2 separate regions of the Homo sapiens genome follow, and region 1 is linked to region 2. Evidence: fine-mapped expression QTL. Tissue or cell type: whole blood. Region 2 holds a variant in brackets; the other region holds the start of a gene. All regions are shown on one strand. Distances are between the middles of the regions.

Evidence for each region. PIP is the estimated chance that this variant, and not a neighbour inherited with it, causes the effect.
Region 1: it holds the start of TRAF3IP3, and the variant in region 2 is fine-mapped to the expression of TRAF3IP3 in whole blood (TOPMed, PIP 0.96).

Annotation. Positions count from the first base shown.
Region 1 is chr1:209,752,665-209,760,772 of GRCh38, forward strand. It overlaps TRAF3IP3 (TRAF3 interacting protein 3), which reads left to right and starts at 3,389. Exons shown (of 17, transcript NM_025228.4): 1 at 3,389-3,645; 2 at 6,370-6,470; 3 at 7,318-7,720. The coding sequence starts at 7,376. RefSeq lists enhancers at 3,112-3,271, 3,552-3,961.
Region 2 is chr1:209,864,978-209,873,085 of GRCh38, forward strand. No RefSeq gene overlaps it. Among named protein-coding and RNA genes, the nearest start is that of UTP25, 41 kb to the left of the region's middle. The variant C/G (reference allele first, on the strand shown) is at 3,444.

The DNA.
Region 1 (8,108 bases), 110 kb before region 2:
AGTGTTTAACTTCATGGTGGCTCATGCCTGTAATCCTAGTACTTTGGGAGGCTAAGGCAGGTGGATCACTTAAGGTCAGGAGTTCGAGACCAGCCGGGCCAACATTGCAAAACCCCGTCTCTACTAAAAATACAAAAAATTAGCCAGACGTGGTGGTGCATGCCTATAATCCCAGCTACTCCAGAGGCTGAGGCACCCGGGAGGCAGAGGTTGCAGTGAGCTGAGATCATGCCACTGCACTCCAGCTTGGGCAACAGAGCGAAACTCCATCTCAAGAAAAAAAAAATTTTTTTAACTCCTTAGTGCTGTCTCTTGGAGTATGGGAGAAGTCATATTAGCATATAGTTTAGTTACCCCAACTGTACAATAAAATCTGATAATCTTACACATGCTTGTGTGGTATTGTGAAGCAACCAGGCTATAAAGGAAAGGGTAGCTTACCCCATACTCATCGCCTCATGGGGGACTACACAGGGCCCAGCATCTATCAAGGAAACTGTTTCAGAATATGACCATCAAAAAAGGGAGCCGTTGTTCCCATTGAACCTGGAAATGATGAGGAGAAGCAAAGGATACTGGCCACTAAAAGCCTGGTGCCCAGCTCAAGAGCAGCCTGAATTAAACCCTCTATTGGAGGCCAGCTGATGATTACACTACAAATCTCTACTTGAGCTTAATTTGGTAAATTCATTTTCTTAAATCCATTTTATCTAGATTTTAAAAATCATTAGCATAGTTACACAAATGACTCTCTATAATTAATTTCCACCGTATCGTGGCTACTTTCCATGTATCATTCCTAAACTTTTATAATGTCTTTTCTCTTTTTTAAATTGATTTGGCTCGCTGATATTTTATTTTATTGATTTTGTTTTCTATTTGTATGTCTACCATTCCTCCCCCTGCCAGATGCACACACAAAACTGAATTTTTTTTATCAATTTTAAACAGGATTCTAACTTATTATATATTCTCCTTTTATCATTTCAAAATTCTCACCTCCTTTTTTTCTGATCATTTTTTAGCAATTCATTTGAAAATAAATGAATAGGAAATTTATTTTTAATCTTCTTGATTTAGGTAATGAAAATGTTTAAAGCTAGGAATTTTCCTTGCATTCTGCTTGGCCATACCTCACAGATTTTCCTCATAATGTTGCCACTATCACCGTTTTCAATGCATTCTTAATTGCAGATTTGAAATTCCCTCTATCTTTTCAGAGTAAATGGGAAGAATTTTTTTCCAAGAAGTTAAAGTGTTTCTTTCTTCCATCTTTTGTTATTTATTTCAATTGTATTGTACTGTGGTCAGAAAATCCTGCCATAATAGATCAACTTTTCAAAACATATACTGAGGTTTACTTTTTGATCCATATGGTCAATTTTTTTAATGTCTCGTGGGCATTTGAAAATAAGGTATATTTTCTATTCTCAAAGTTCTGTGTGTGTGTGTGTGTCTTTTTCAATATAGATAGATAGGTATGACAACCTTATTAATTGTTTTGTTCTCAGAACACAATGTTAAGGGCTCAAACCTACTGTCAAGCAAACCTGGGTCCAACACTTTCTGTGTGATCTTGAGCATATCATTGACCACTCTAAATCCCAGTTATCATGGGATTAGTATCCCAATGACTGCGGACTTTGTAGACATTTCTTTCTGATGTTTAATGGAGTCCAAATAGTAGGTCTCTATAGGAACTCCTATTAAAATCTCCTGTCTTTCTTTACGCTCTAATGCCCTGAACTCCCAGAATCTTCTCACTCTTCTATGCCAATAAAAATTCTCTGGCCAGGCGTGGTGGCTCATGCCTGTGATCGCAGCACTTTGGGAGGCCGAGGCAGGTGGATCACCTGAGGTCAGTAGTTTGAGTCCAGCCTGACTAACATGGTTGAAACCCCATTTCTACTAAATACAAAAAATTATCCAGGCATGGTGGCGTATGCCTGTAATCCCAGCTACTCAGGAGGCTGAGGCAGGAGAATTGCTTGAACCTGGGAGGCGGAGGTTGCAGTGAACCGAGATCGCGCAATTGCACTCCAGCTTAGGCAACAAGAGTGAAACTCCGTCTCACTCTGTCGCCCAGGCTAGAGTGCAGTGGCACATTCTTGGCTCACTGCAACCTCTGCCTCCCAGGTTCAAGCGATTCTTGTGCCTCAGCCTCCCAAGTAGCTGGGTTTACAGGCACATGCCATGACATCCGGCTAATTTTTTATATTTTTGGTAGAGATGGGGTTTCACCATGTTGGCCAGGCTAGTCTTGAACTCTTGACCTCAAGTGATCCACCCACCTGGACCTCCCAAAGTGCTGGGATTACAGGTGTGAGCCACTGTGCCCGGCCAAAATTCTCTTTTTCTGACATCTTGGGCTCCCCAAGCCCTCTGTCCTCTACTCATTCCCATCTCTATGTGTCAAGCTCCAGACACAGGGCCTTGAGCTGTTGTCTCTCATCCTGAGTAAATGCCACTTGTCTTCAGTCCTAGTGCTTGAGAATCCATCCTCTGCTTTTCCCTGCCGATTCCTTGTCCTTTTTCTCCTCAAAGAACAGAGAAAGAAGCAGAAGCAGAGAAAATGGTGACAAACTCTCCACATGTTAATAAATGTTATCACAGCTATTTTTAAGTCTCATTACCTGCCTCACATGTGTCAAACCTTAGAATTCCAAAGAGCCACATACATCACCCAACTACCACAGTGAGTAGCATCCAGACAAGGTGAATTTTACAAGGTTACAAAGCTGCTCAGTTAACTTGTCCCAATCCAGTTTCCTCTCCACTATTTTAGCCTGAACTTCTTGGGAATTTCCTGGCTGCATCATTTGTGATGGCTTCATCTTAATGCATGCAAATCAGTTCCCTTTAGTTTTTCCCTAAATTTCCTAGTCCGGTTGACCAGATAAAAAAATGTGTAGAAGACTCTGCCTTCTATTCCTTCCTTCATCCCCCAGCTACCCACCTTTACACTCCCTCCTCATTGCTCCAGAAAGGAGCAAATCCAGAGTTGGTCTCATTCCAGAATCTGAGAAAGACACCACCTACTTCAGAAGAGCAGAAACTCTTTACAACACCAGGATTGGGAAGAGGTGGCTAAAGAAAAAGGAAAATCCTTACACAAAGAACTACCTGATACACATGAAAGCCTACACTGAGAACATCTCATCTAGGTCTTACCACCAAAAAGGCATTTTTTTCCCTCTCATAGAAACCACAAAGGTCTGAATCTGACCCAGAGGACTATCCTTTTCTAATCATGGAAAGGAATCTTGACTTGAAACTGTCCAAGAGCTCCGACCAATCCAGTAGCAAGAGAAAGGGTGGCCGGGGTGCCTACTGATGGGAGGAGCTCCTGAGCCCAGCCCTGGAGGCCTCAGAGTTCAGGGGCCCACTTAGATGATACCAGAGAGCAAGAGAGAGGAACTGGGGTTTGCGAACCTTGTGGCTTTGTCTGTTTCCTGTTTCAGCAAGGCTGCTGTGCAAAAAGAAAGACGGTACCAAGAAGGGACGTGTTAATGGGGCCCAGACCTATGGATTGAAAGCGTGTGCTTTACCCATCTGCTGTCTTGCTCCATCTGAGACCAGAGCCAAGATCTGCCCAGGACTGGAATGCTTTCCCGAGTGGCTTGAGTTGGAGCCTGGGACTAGGAGGTAACTGAGAAGGAGGATGCTTTTGTGTCCAGGTTTGGGAACTCCAACTTCGGGGTAGGGCAGAAGATGCTCTACCATCCCAGCTCCCCTGGGTGGAGAGTGGGTGGCATAGTTTAAGGGTGTCAGGGGTTTGGGTAACCAAGAAAGTATCCTGTATTGGTTTCCTGTGGCGCTAGCCATGGCACAGGGTACAGCTTGCACCACTCCTCTGTTCCAGTAGATTAGATTACATTAGATTAGGAGTGAGTCAAACGACTTAGAGTTCAGGCTACCCAGTGATATGGGCATGAATTAAATGACCTTTTACAGTTTTCTTCAAAGCAGGGATCCCTGAACACAAGACTGCCTTCCCAGCAGCTTAAGCGCAGGCCCCTCTCCCCTCAGTTCACACTGAGAGCTCTGGGCCAGGAAGGCCAACCCATGCAGGAAGCCATTCATTGTCTCCATTACAAACATGGCCAGGAAGTAAAAGCGAGACTCAGAAAGGCATGTCAAGCCACAGTCAGGTGAGGAGCCATGCCCTGTTCTCTCTCTGCAGCCTGAGAGACCAGGCTGAGCCTTCCCAGCCAGTAAACCTTCTTCCTCCAAGCTCTAAGTGAGCCCAGTCATGCTGCCAGGGGGGAACCTGAGAGATGCCAGAAAGCCTGGGCAGTGGCCAAGTGATCTTTCTTTGAACCCTACAGGGACCAGTTCCCTTTTCTTTAGCAGCCTACCCCTGTCAGCCGTCCCACATACCTTCTTGTTTTCAAGCAAGTCAGTAGGGTCCAGATATCCCAGAAACCTGGGTAGGGTTCTATGCAGCATGCTGCACCAAATCCTAGCAGGTGTGGTAGCCAAGGCATCTGGGAACACTCCCCTCTCTAAGGAGCCATTTCCACTGCAGCTCCTTTCTTGGGTAAGAAGGCTCCATGTCTGCCCCAAGGAAGCAGAGAGCAGAGCAGCTGTGTGTTTCAGTGGACTAAGGTTGGTGGCCTGGGTGGAGAGCCCAGAGAGACCTCATCTCAGGCACTGTCTTCTCCCCCACAGCCCTTTCCTCTTCGCGGCAAGAAGGTAGGAGGATTCTCAATGTTCTGCCTCCACTACAAAACCTGTGGGGAAGCTGAGCCAAACAGGGAGGGGACCTCACACCTTATGTGTGACACAGGCAGACCCCATCTCTTCCTTACCTTTCGGCTTGGTGTAATTGGGATGGCAATTATGTCCAGACCACAGAGAAGCCTTTCTCCTTATAGCCCAAACCCAGAGGTCAGAAGTAAATGTGACTTCAGCCTGGGGCCAGCATCCCCTCAATCTGGTAAACAATATACTCTGTCAAAGAGAGAGAGGGTTGAGAGGATGAGAGAAGGCATTCTTGGTCCTAGAAGTGCTAGTTTAGCTTGGAGCCTTTGTCTTACAGCACCAAGTCTTCAATATCCAACATCGGCATAACAAGGATAATATTCGCAATTACTTTTGCACCAACCTAATAGGAATACTTTATGTCTTTATTATTAAAAGGTAACATTTATTGTGTGCTCCATGCCAGGTGCATGGCCTGCATTTTGTCATTTAATCCTTATAACCTACAAGGCAGGTCCTAGCCCCATTTTATAAATGAGGAGACTGGGGCTTAGAGATGTTTAATAGCTTATCTAAAAACACACACAGGTTGTAGGTGACAGAGCCAGGACATGAGTCCACGCAGTGTGACTCCAAGAGCCAGGGTTCTCCACTGCAATCCATGGCAGAATAGCCAGGGGCTGTGGCTCAGGGATGCTGTGAGTGTAGGTTCTAGACATGGAGTTCACATGCACATAATCCTGCGTCTCCTCCATTCAGTCATTTATAACAATAGACATGGGTCTCTCAGACCCTTTCTTTTAAGTCTTTAAATAAAGAAAGTGGCAGGGAAGAAGTCAAGGGACCACCCCCTATGCCCACTCCCACCCTTATCCGAGAAGAAGAAGTAAGGAAAAACAAAGAAGAGAGCCATTCAGAATGGGTATGTAGAGGACAAACATTAATAACCTCACATTTCTGCTTGGAATCAATGCTGCCTGACACCAGAGTATGCCCCTCCAACCCTCAAGAGTCAGGCATTTGAGTGTCCAGGGCTTGACCACACAAAACTCCTCTCAGGGAAGAAGACTGCCCCACCCATGACCCTGGGGAATGAGTGGTAGGATCAGAGAGAAAACAAGAATCCTGCAGAGAATTCCAGACTGAGCCAGAGTAGCGAAGTCCCAGTAAAGGGGCAGAGAGTCTGCTACCTGTTGAGTCTGTTTGGCCTATAAATAAACCCCAAGGGGTTAGAGCTAGCAAATGCCTGCTAGTTGGTGAAGCTGAGATACCCTCCTCCCAGGGTGGTGGGTAATGAGGTCGTGGGAGGAAGAGAAGCAGCAGCAGCTGTGAGGGGGAGTCCCTCTTCCTTCATCAGTCCCTGGTCTGACTCCAGTGATCAGAGGAGGCAGGACACAGAATTTCCAACGCTCAGGATCCAGCTCATCCAAATCCAGCCCAACTCAGCAAAGTGACCAGAGGGTTCTAGGAGGATAAACTACAGAAGGTAGGTGGGGAAGAGTAGGAAAGAGAAAGGCACAGAGAAGGAAAAGGGGATTCAGGTCTAGGTGCTATGTGAATATCAGGTAAGGCCATGCAGAGGGTCATCCTGTGGCCCCTACACCAAGCCTGGCTCCCTGGAAACTTCTGATTACTGTCTTTGTTTTGTTTCTTTTCTGTTTGCAGCAGCCTTATTGAGGTACAATTCATGTGCTTGTGGGTTTGGATGGCACAATCTGTGTCTGGGCTAAGGAAAGCAGACTTGGCACCAACATTAACCCTGACAGGTTGGTAATCCTAAAGAAATGGAACCCTCAGCCCCAACAGTATTGGAGCCAGATGCTCTGAAATGGGTTTTGGCCAGCACTAGGCATGTGGCAGATGCTCAGTCAATATTGATTGGACTTGATCTGCACCTGAGAGACACAGCCCAGTCCTGAGCTTGGAGTGGGGGGCCCATGGACCATTGTCAGGACAGCAGGTTGGAGGAATTAGGGTAGGGTTTCCCTCCTAAACCATGCCAGGTCCAGGCTCACAAGCTCGTTGCTAAAAGTCAAGAAGAGAGCAGTGGGTGCTGGTCACAGGACTGGTCACCACCTGAGGGGGTGTGGTTAGCCCTCCAGATCCTTGAGAAGTGTCACTCAACTATGTTAGTGACAGCTTGGACCAAGAGACCAGTAAAGATACTGACTTTCCTTTTCAACTGGGGGATAAGAGGGCAGATTGGCTCAACTTAGCTGCTTCTCTAGAAGTCTGGAAAATGAACACACACCTGCCATCCAAGAGGCTATAAGCTCATTATGATTTTAATCAATTATTTCTCATGTTCCCCTGACTCAGAGGCATGGTAAGATGTTCAGTCAAGGAGTAAGTGGCAGCCATAGAGACCCTTTTACTTTACAAAGGGGAAACATCGGCTAGAGAAAAGCAGGAATTCACTTTTATAAGACTGTATTAGTTCATTAGAGACTGAGCCCAAGAGTCCTGACTCCCACTTTGATACCACCATGTCCTCAGTTTTCAACCCACATGGATGGAACTCTGTGCTATTTCTGCCCCCTGGTCTAGGGAGATAGTCATTTTTCTGCCCATCTTCTGACCCCTCCCCTTCTCCTCCCTCTTGGCATTTGGCAGATCCAGGCATCTATTCCAGGAACTGGAAGCCAAGCGCAACAGGTGCTTGGAGGTCATCATGATCAGCCCAGACCCCAGGCCCTCCCCTGGCTTGGCCCGGTGGGCTGAGAGCTATGAGGCCAAGTGTGAGCGCAGGCAAGAGATCCGTGAAAGCCGCCGCTGCCGTCCCAATGTGACCACTTGCCGCCAGGTGGGGAAGACGCTGAGGATCCAACAGAGAGAGCAGCTCCAGAGAGCTCGACTGCAGCAGTTCTTCAGGAGGAGGAACCTGGAGCTAGAGGAGAAGGGCAAAGCGCAGCATCCCCAGGCCAGGGAGCAAGGGCCCTCCAGGCGGCCAGGACAGGTGACTGTCCTCAAGGAACCCTTGTCTTGTGCCAGAAGGATTTCTTCTCCCAGAGAGCAGGTGGGCCGTGTCAAGGGACATACTGCTGTGTGCTCTGGGACCCTCTCTGGACAAGGAGGGTGGGTGGGCTCAAGGTCACTAAAAAGTGACCTAAATCAAGTCCTTCTTCCTCAGTCATATAGTAAAGTTGCCAAGAGCTACTTATAGTAAAGTTGCCAACAGCTACTTATTCAGAGATTTTTGCTGTTGTGTTTTCGTTTGTTTAGCTCTTTTTGTTCTGCACTTGACTTATAAGAGAGAAAAAATAATTTTTAAAAACAATTTCAGGCTGGGCATGTTGGCTTATACCTGTAATCCCAGTACTTTGGGAGGCCAAGGCAGGAGGATCACTTGAGGCCAGGAGTTCGAGACCAGCCTTTTGATAGAGACAAGACCCTGTCTCTATCAA
Region 2 (8,108 bases):
AGAAAGAAAAGAAAGAAAAAGAGAAAAGGTGATACTCCTTATACTCCTAAGTTTTATAAACAGAATATATACTTGGAACAAAACAGCAAAGCATCCCAAATGCTCTTCTTATGAGTAAACAATAGGGCAGAGGCGGGAAGCAAAACCCTAATTCAAGGGACTTTGCTCTCAACCTTGTAAAGCCACGAGTTGCAGGAGAAAGGTGGGCAACTAACATCCTGCAAGGAGTAGTGTGTTAGTTTGCTAGGGTTGCCATAACAATGTACTACAGACTGAGTGGCTTCAAAAACTAAAATTTGGCTGGGCACGGTGGCTCATGCCTGTAATCCCAGCACTTTGGGAGGCCGAGGCAGGAGGATCACTTGAGCCTAGGAGTTTGAGACCAGCCTGGACAACATAGTGAGATCCTGTCTCTCCAAAAAATAATTTTATAAAATTAGTTGGGCATGGTGACACATGCCTGTAGTCCCAGGTATGTGGGAGGCTGAGGCAGGAGGATTGCTGAACCTGGGAGATCAAAGCTGCAGTGAGCCTGGGAGACGGAGGCTGTACTCCAGACTGGTTGACAGAGTGAGACCCTGTCTCAAAAAACAATAAATAAGTAAATAACCAAAACTGATTTTTAATTCTGGAGGCTAAAAGTCGAAGATCAAGGTGTTAGCTGGGGTGGTTTCTTCTGAGACCTGCCTGTGTCTTCACATGGTCTTCCCTCTGTCTGTCTGTCTTTGTCCTTCTCTTCTTATAAGGATGCATATCAGATTGGATTAGGGCCCACCCTAATAACCTCCTTTTACCTTAATTACCTTTTTTTAAAAAATAATTTTTTTTTCTATACTGAATCTCACTCTGTTGCCTAGGCTGGAGTGCAATGGTGTGATCTCAGCTCACTGCAACCTCCTCCTCCCGGGATCAAGGGATTCTCCTGCCTCAGTCTCCCAAGTAGCTGGGATTACAGGTGCCTGCCACCATGCTCGGCTAATTTTTGTATTTTTAGTAGAGACGGGGATTTCACCATGTTGCCCAGGCTGGTCTTGAACTCCTGACCTCAGGTGATCCACCTGCCTTGGCCTCCCAAAGTTCTGGGATTACAGGCATAAGCCACCACGCCTGGCCCACTTTAATTACCTTTTTAAAGACTCAATCTCCAAATACAGTCACATTCTGAACTACTGGGGGTTAGGATCTCAAGATAGGGATTTTGGGGAAACACAATTCAGCCCATAACATGTATTCAGGTCCCCTTTCTGCCCAGACTTTAATGCAAATATAGATTCACCAGTCTGTCCAAAAAAAAGGCCACTGAGAAAGGAGGCCACACTTCCAGGAGGAAATTACATCGGGGAGGAATAAATACAAGCCTGTGGAGGTGTGGTTACTAGAAGGGGAAGCTGAAAATCTGTTTCTTATCTGCCTACACTCTTGGTACTTCCTCCATGTGGGCTGCAAAAGTGTGGTACCCCACACTTCAGCCCTATTTGTTTCCTTCCACCCACTCCCACCCTCTGTGTATAGCCTGGGGAAAGCATTCTGATGTTTTAGTTTTCTTTCTCCAGCCAGTCTAGGATAAAGTCTGTAGGGCATCTTTGCAGAAGCCTGCAAATATTTTGCTACAGAAAAGTGTTGCGGGAAGTCAGGGACCCCCGAATGGAGGGACCAGCTGGAGCCGTGGCAGAGGAACATAAATTGTGAAGATTTCATTTTAATATGGACATTTATCAGTTCCCCAAATTAATACTTTTATAATTATTTCTTATGCCTGTCTTTAATCTCTTAATCCTGTTATCTTCGTAAGCTGAGGATGTATGTCACCTCAGGACCACTATTGTGTTAACTGTACAAATTGACTGTAGAACATGTGTGTTTGAACAATATGAAATCAGTGCACCTTGAAAATGAACAGAATAACAGCAATTGTAGGGAACAAGGGAAGGCAACCATAAGGTCTGACTGCCTGCAGGGTCAGGCAGAATACAGCCATATTTTTCTTCTTGCAGAGACCCTATAAATGGATGTGCAAGTAGGGAAGATATTGCTGAATTATTTTCCCAGCAAGGAATATTAATAATTAATTCCCTGGGGAAGGAATGCATTCCTGGTGGGAGGTCTATAAACAGCTGCTCTGGGAGTGTCTGTCTTATGCGGTTGAGATAAGGACTGAAATACGCCCTGGTCTCCTGCAGTACTCAGGCTTATTAGGATGGGGGAAAAAACTGCTCCCTGGTAAATCTGAGGTCAGACCAGTTCTCTGCTCTCGAGCCCTGTTTTCTGTTGTTTAAGATGTTTATCAAGACAATATGTGCACAGCTGAACATAGACCCTTATCAGGAGTTTTTTATTTTGTCTGTGCCTCGTGATCTTTGCTTTGCCCTTTGCCTCGTGATCTTTATTGGCCTCAGAAGCATGTGATCTTTGTTCTCCTTTTTGCCCTTTGAAGCATGTGATCTTTGTGACCTACTCCCTGTTCATACACCCCCTCCCCTTTTAAAGTCCTCAATAAAAACCTGTTGGTTTTGTGGCTCAGGTGGGCATCATGGACCTACCGATATGTGATGTCACCCCCAGCGGCCCAGCTGTAAAATTCCTCTCTTTGTACTCTTTCTATTTCTCAGACCAGCTGACACTTGGAGAAAATAGAAAGAACCTACGTTGAAATATTGGGGGTGAGTTCCCCCGATAGAAAAGTACCCAAACCTCTTAGTAAGCAAACCTCTTAGTTAAGAACCTACCTTATTGGACCAATTGGTGGGAAAAGCATGGCCGTAGAAGATTGGCACTAAGGTGGGGCTGTTAAGATGTGACAAAACAAACGAAGGCTAAGCTGGTGCACATAATAATAACAGCTTCTGCTCCAGGAGACATCTGTGGGCTCCTCAATGGCTCTTCGAGCTCTCGGACGGGTCCAGCCAAGAGAAGCCCCAGCAAATGATGTCTGATCATGTGGAGGCCTTGGTTCTCAGGGTCTCCCTGCTGGGCTGCAGGTGGGTGGTGGCTGCTGTCTCTATGAAAGCCACAGCTCCTGCTGGGCCACCCTCTCTACTACAGCCCAGCCTCTGGATTCCTCCCCTTGCCCTGGGACACTCCAGCATCTCTTGTTCATTTCCCCTGACCCTGCCCACACCTCTGTGAATAGATACTTCATTAATCTCTCCTTAATAACTCACATCAATGTGCCATCTGTTTCCTCTCAGGTCCCTGAGCTTTTCTGTGTGCTAGGCACTGTTATAAATATAAATATACATTTCCTTTTTTTTAAAAAAACAGTTTGTTAAGATATAATTCACATACCATACAATGTACCCACATAAAGGGTACGATCAATGGCTTTCAGAGTATTCGCAGATATGTACAAACAATACCACAGTTAATTTTAGAACATTTTCATCACCTCAAAAAGAAACCCCATGTCCCTTAGCTACTACCCTCCTCTTCCCCACACCCCACCC[C/G]TCAGTCCTGAGCAACCGCTCACCTACTTTCTGTAGGTTTCTCTCTTTCTTTTTCACATGAATAGAATGCTATAGTATGTGATCTGTTACAACTGGCTTCTTTTACATAGCACAATGCTTTCAGGATTCTTCCATGTTATTATAGCTTATGTTGGCACTTTGGTCTTTTTTGTAGTTGAACATATTCCACTGTATGAATTTAACACATTTCATGTATCCATTTGTCAGTTGATGGACGTTGGGTTGTTTCCACCTTTTGGCTATAATAAATAATGCTGCTATAAACGTTCAGGCACAAGTTTTTGTGTGGACGTTGTTTTCATTTCTCTTTGGTATACAACTAAGAGTGGATCGCTGAGTTCTATAGTAACTCTATGTTGAACTATTTGAGAACTTGCCAAACTGTTTTTCAAAGCAGCTGCACCATTTTACATTTCCATCAGCCATCTATAAGGGTTCTGATTTCTTCACATTCTCACCAACGCTTGTTGTTATCTGAATTTTTTATTCTGGCCATCTTCGTGGTGGTGGTATCTCATCGTGATTTTGATTTCTATTTCCCTGTTAACTAATGGTGGCAAGCATCTTTTAATGAGCGTATTGGCAATATCTATCTCCTTTTATTCTCACAACTACTTTATGAGATAGGTGGGCTATTAAATCCATTTTACAGATGAGAAGAATGAGGCATGGAGAGTTGAAGTGACTTACCTAAGGTATACAGCGAGTAAGCGTTAGACTAGGATAGGAACTCTAGCAGGCAACCTTCATGCTCCTGTTAGAACACACTGCCTTTGCACAAAAGAACAAGAAGATTTGGGGGATGGCAGGGCAAGAAGGCAGGGTAGCCAAAGAACTTTTAAGAAGAGGAATATCTGCTGTGCCATTTAAAATAGCTCATGTTGCTGCATAGAAATCTCCTTCATTTCCATGTGTGAATGGTTATTTTGTGGAAAGCAAGGAAAGAGGGCCAAGTTCTTTCATGTTTGGGTTAAAGCCAGAGTGAAAATAAAGAACAGCCACAAGCAATAGGGCAGGGATCAAGAACTCAGCTGGGGCAGAAAGCTGGAGCCAGAGCTAATAAGATCATATAGATCCCTTAATAATTCACAGAAATATGGGAGAGGGCTGTAGCTTTCCACAGTCCAGACAGTTCAAACAAACCTTATCTGGATCTGAAGGGCCTGGGAGAGCCTCAGCTGGGTTTCATTTATAAAGTACTTTAGCACAAGTATGGTCATCCCCTCCCCAGTTCACCCCCACCCCGAAGTTCTTAGCCTTGTATCCAAATGAACATGTGGGCACTAAAGCCTGCTCTTTCCTCCTTCTATCTTTGTATTAACACTAAACAAACTGGCCTTTGTTTCTGACCTTGAAGAGACAGTAAAATCAACATCATTCTCCAAAATATCCCTCAAAGATGGGCCTATAAGAATTCAGAGAGTTTAGAGAATCGCTGCTTAGAAGCTTTCTCCCCTCAAACTCATCCCAGGAATCTTCTCCCTTTTACTCCCACTCCCACCCTCAACACACCCCCCACCCACACACACACACACAAACTTCCCAATTCACTGCTAGACTGCTTGATGGTTCTCTCTGGTGAGAGAAGCCAGGGTAACAAGGAGGAGGGAATGAGTCTGCAAATCAGGTATATTTTTGAATTTCAATTCTGTATCCCCAGCATCTGTCTGCTGTTTTATCAAGAGGACCAGAGATCATTTAGGAATGATGGACAGTCCTCTGAGGAAGCAATGCCAGAAGCATGATGAGCAGAAATGCTGAACAAGATGCTGGCTGGAAGGGAAATCAATCTCCCAGGCCGATTAGTTTGGGTGGGAGCCAACAGAGGCTGAAACTTGTTACAGCTACAGTCATCTTTCTTGCTACTTTTTTTTTCTTCTAGATCCTGGAGTAAAATCAGATTAGCCTTAGCGCTCAAGGTAGCTAACTGGTCTGCACATGCCATGGCAATGTCTCAAAACAGATGACTATTATTAAAAAATTATGGAGAAATGACATGATGCATCTCTCCATTTGGTCTGTAAGATACTTAAGGACAGGGGCTATGACCTTTCTTCTATGATTTATGGAGTAACTAGCACAATGCTGGGCCCAAAAGGTCACTAAACAACTTGCTGAAGGGAATAGGCTTAAAGTAGACACGAAAGGAACTTTCTTTTTTAAAAAAATAAAACAAAGAGACTTTGTCTAATCTCCCAGCTAAGAAATGAAAGCCAGATGAGTCCAATTCATTATGATGCATAGAGAATAAGATGGATAATTATAAACAGAGAAGCCCACAGAGAAGTTTGGAGAAGGGGGTTGCTATTCAATGTTAAAAACATGATTCTCATACAGATATAGTCGAAGATTGATCTAACTTATTAGTGAGGGAACCAGTAGGAAGACAAATCCAAATCAAAGGAGAATACAAGAGGCTGTTTTCTATGATCATTGAAAGTAAGGATGTAGAAGTGGGTTTGCAAAGCTAGGCAAAACTGTTTAATGTCCTACACAGCAGCAAGATCAGACCCTTTGGGGTTATGTTTTCTATTTGACAGAATTCTTTTGCCTTTCTACTGAACAAGAGTCATTTGCAATGTAGCTATCTTTTCAAGTTAACATCTCATTTTACAGAGTCTGGCCCCTAATCATGAGTAATTGGAACCAGAGAAATGCTCTCTCTCTTTTTAAAAAAATCCTGGGCTGGTATAGCAGGTGACAGTAGCAGTTAGAAGTGTTAATCCTCTTATCTGCCTCTGTGAGTTTAGATGGAAAAGTCAGGGAAGGAAAAGTAGGCAGAGTATGCAATGTGCCTAGCGTCACTCTTGGTAAGCTACCACTTGCCTATAAATAAAAACCACAATGCATGATCACCCATAAACCCAGAAAATGGTTTTCAGAGTGATCTAATCCAACCTGCAATCCCTGGCTTCTTTTCCTCCCCTGACATTTCCATCCACATTCTTTAGGTGGAAGGTAGAAATAACCACCTATCTGAAGTGAATAGACTTACCTCTCCTTGTCTGACAGCTTAAGTCCTAGACTTATGAGCGAGACTTTCCTATTAGGAAGAGAATTAAATCATTGTTAAACAAGTGTTTGTTTTCTTTTGCTTTTTCCTTCACAGGCCAGAAGCCATTTCTCTGGATCCCACTCAAGTTTAGGTGGTTGTGCCAATAGCATCAACTGCATGGGCTGTGTTTATAGACAAGTGGTATCTGACAGTAAGGGAATTGCTTGTTGAATGACTTGGAGGATCTCCCTGCCCTATTGAACCAGGATTAATAAACTCAGCGATGGAGCTTTGGAGGCTTTGCTGTCCACCTCAGGGGATATGGCTTGGGAAGAACTCAAATTCACCTCTATGATATTCTAACACTGGCAGAGGCAAATGAGAGGATTAACACTTGTAACTGTTACTGTCACTTGCTGTACTAGCCTAGGATTTTTAAAAAAGAGAGTATTTATCTGGTTCAGCCCCATTTGCTGCTATGAACCCTCCCAGCCCCTGCCTTTTCTTCCCTGCTGGTTCTAGGGCACCCCAAGGAGCACTCCACATGGGCACATAGCACAATCCTCTGGTACGTAACACCAGTAACCATCATTTCTCTCTAGTTCTGCCCTGAATTCCTGTGCTGAGTTTCATTCCAGAGATCACATACTCCTGTGCAGCTACCTGGACACCACCAGAGCACAGACACCACCATTCATGCCAAAGCCACTGGCACCAGGGCCACAAGTGCCCTGTGCTGTCTGATGCCCTCCATGCCCCTGCTAGGGTCTGTGGAATGACTCACTTAATTCTCTCCTTATGGCAGCCCTTTCTGCCTAGGAGTCAGGCAGGTGCCCTTAGCACCATCTGGGTTTCTCTGCTCCTCTCTCATGGACCCAGATTTGTGCAGCTCTACCCTTTGCTCCTTCAGGTGAACTCTCCTGGGGGACTCATGAGAAAGGCCCCTTAGGGGGCCCCATGGCCCATTTGGCCATGATTCTCCAAATATGCTCAGGGGTGTCTGGATCCAAAGTAAATAAAGTTGAGGTTCAAGTTGAGACACTGTCACCCTTTAAAATGGACATAGATGGGACAATAGAACATCACCCACCAGCTCTGAAAGGAAGTTCACAGATATTTCCTTAGCTAAGCACAGAAACATGGGGACACTTTCCTAGCCCCCTCTGAATCACATCTTCAACGTGAACATTTGTCATTCCAGGGAAGAAACAGGAATATTCAAAAAGAGAAACTGGAAAGTGAGACCTAGAGTATAGTCTCAGTTGTACCATTAATGAGTCTGAGAAAGTCATTTCCTCTCCCTGGCCTCAATTTCCTTTTATGTCAAATGAGAGTAGTACTCTAAACTGGGGGTCAGCAAACTTTCTGAGTAAAAGGCCAGATAGTAAATGCGTAGTCTCTATTAGTAATACAGTTTCTGTCACAACTACTCAATTCTGCAGTTGTAGTACAAAAGCAGCCATAGGCAATGTGTGGCCGTGTTCCAATAAAACTTTATTTACAAAAACAGGCAGTGGGCTGGGTTTGACCCACAGGCCATATTTTGCCAACCCTAGGTGTAGATGATCTTCAGCATCTTTTTAAATAACAATAATTCCTTTAGGTGAGAAGTGGATTTTTTGATACTACACATACAATTCATTTAAATG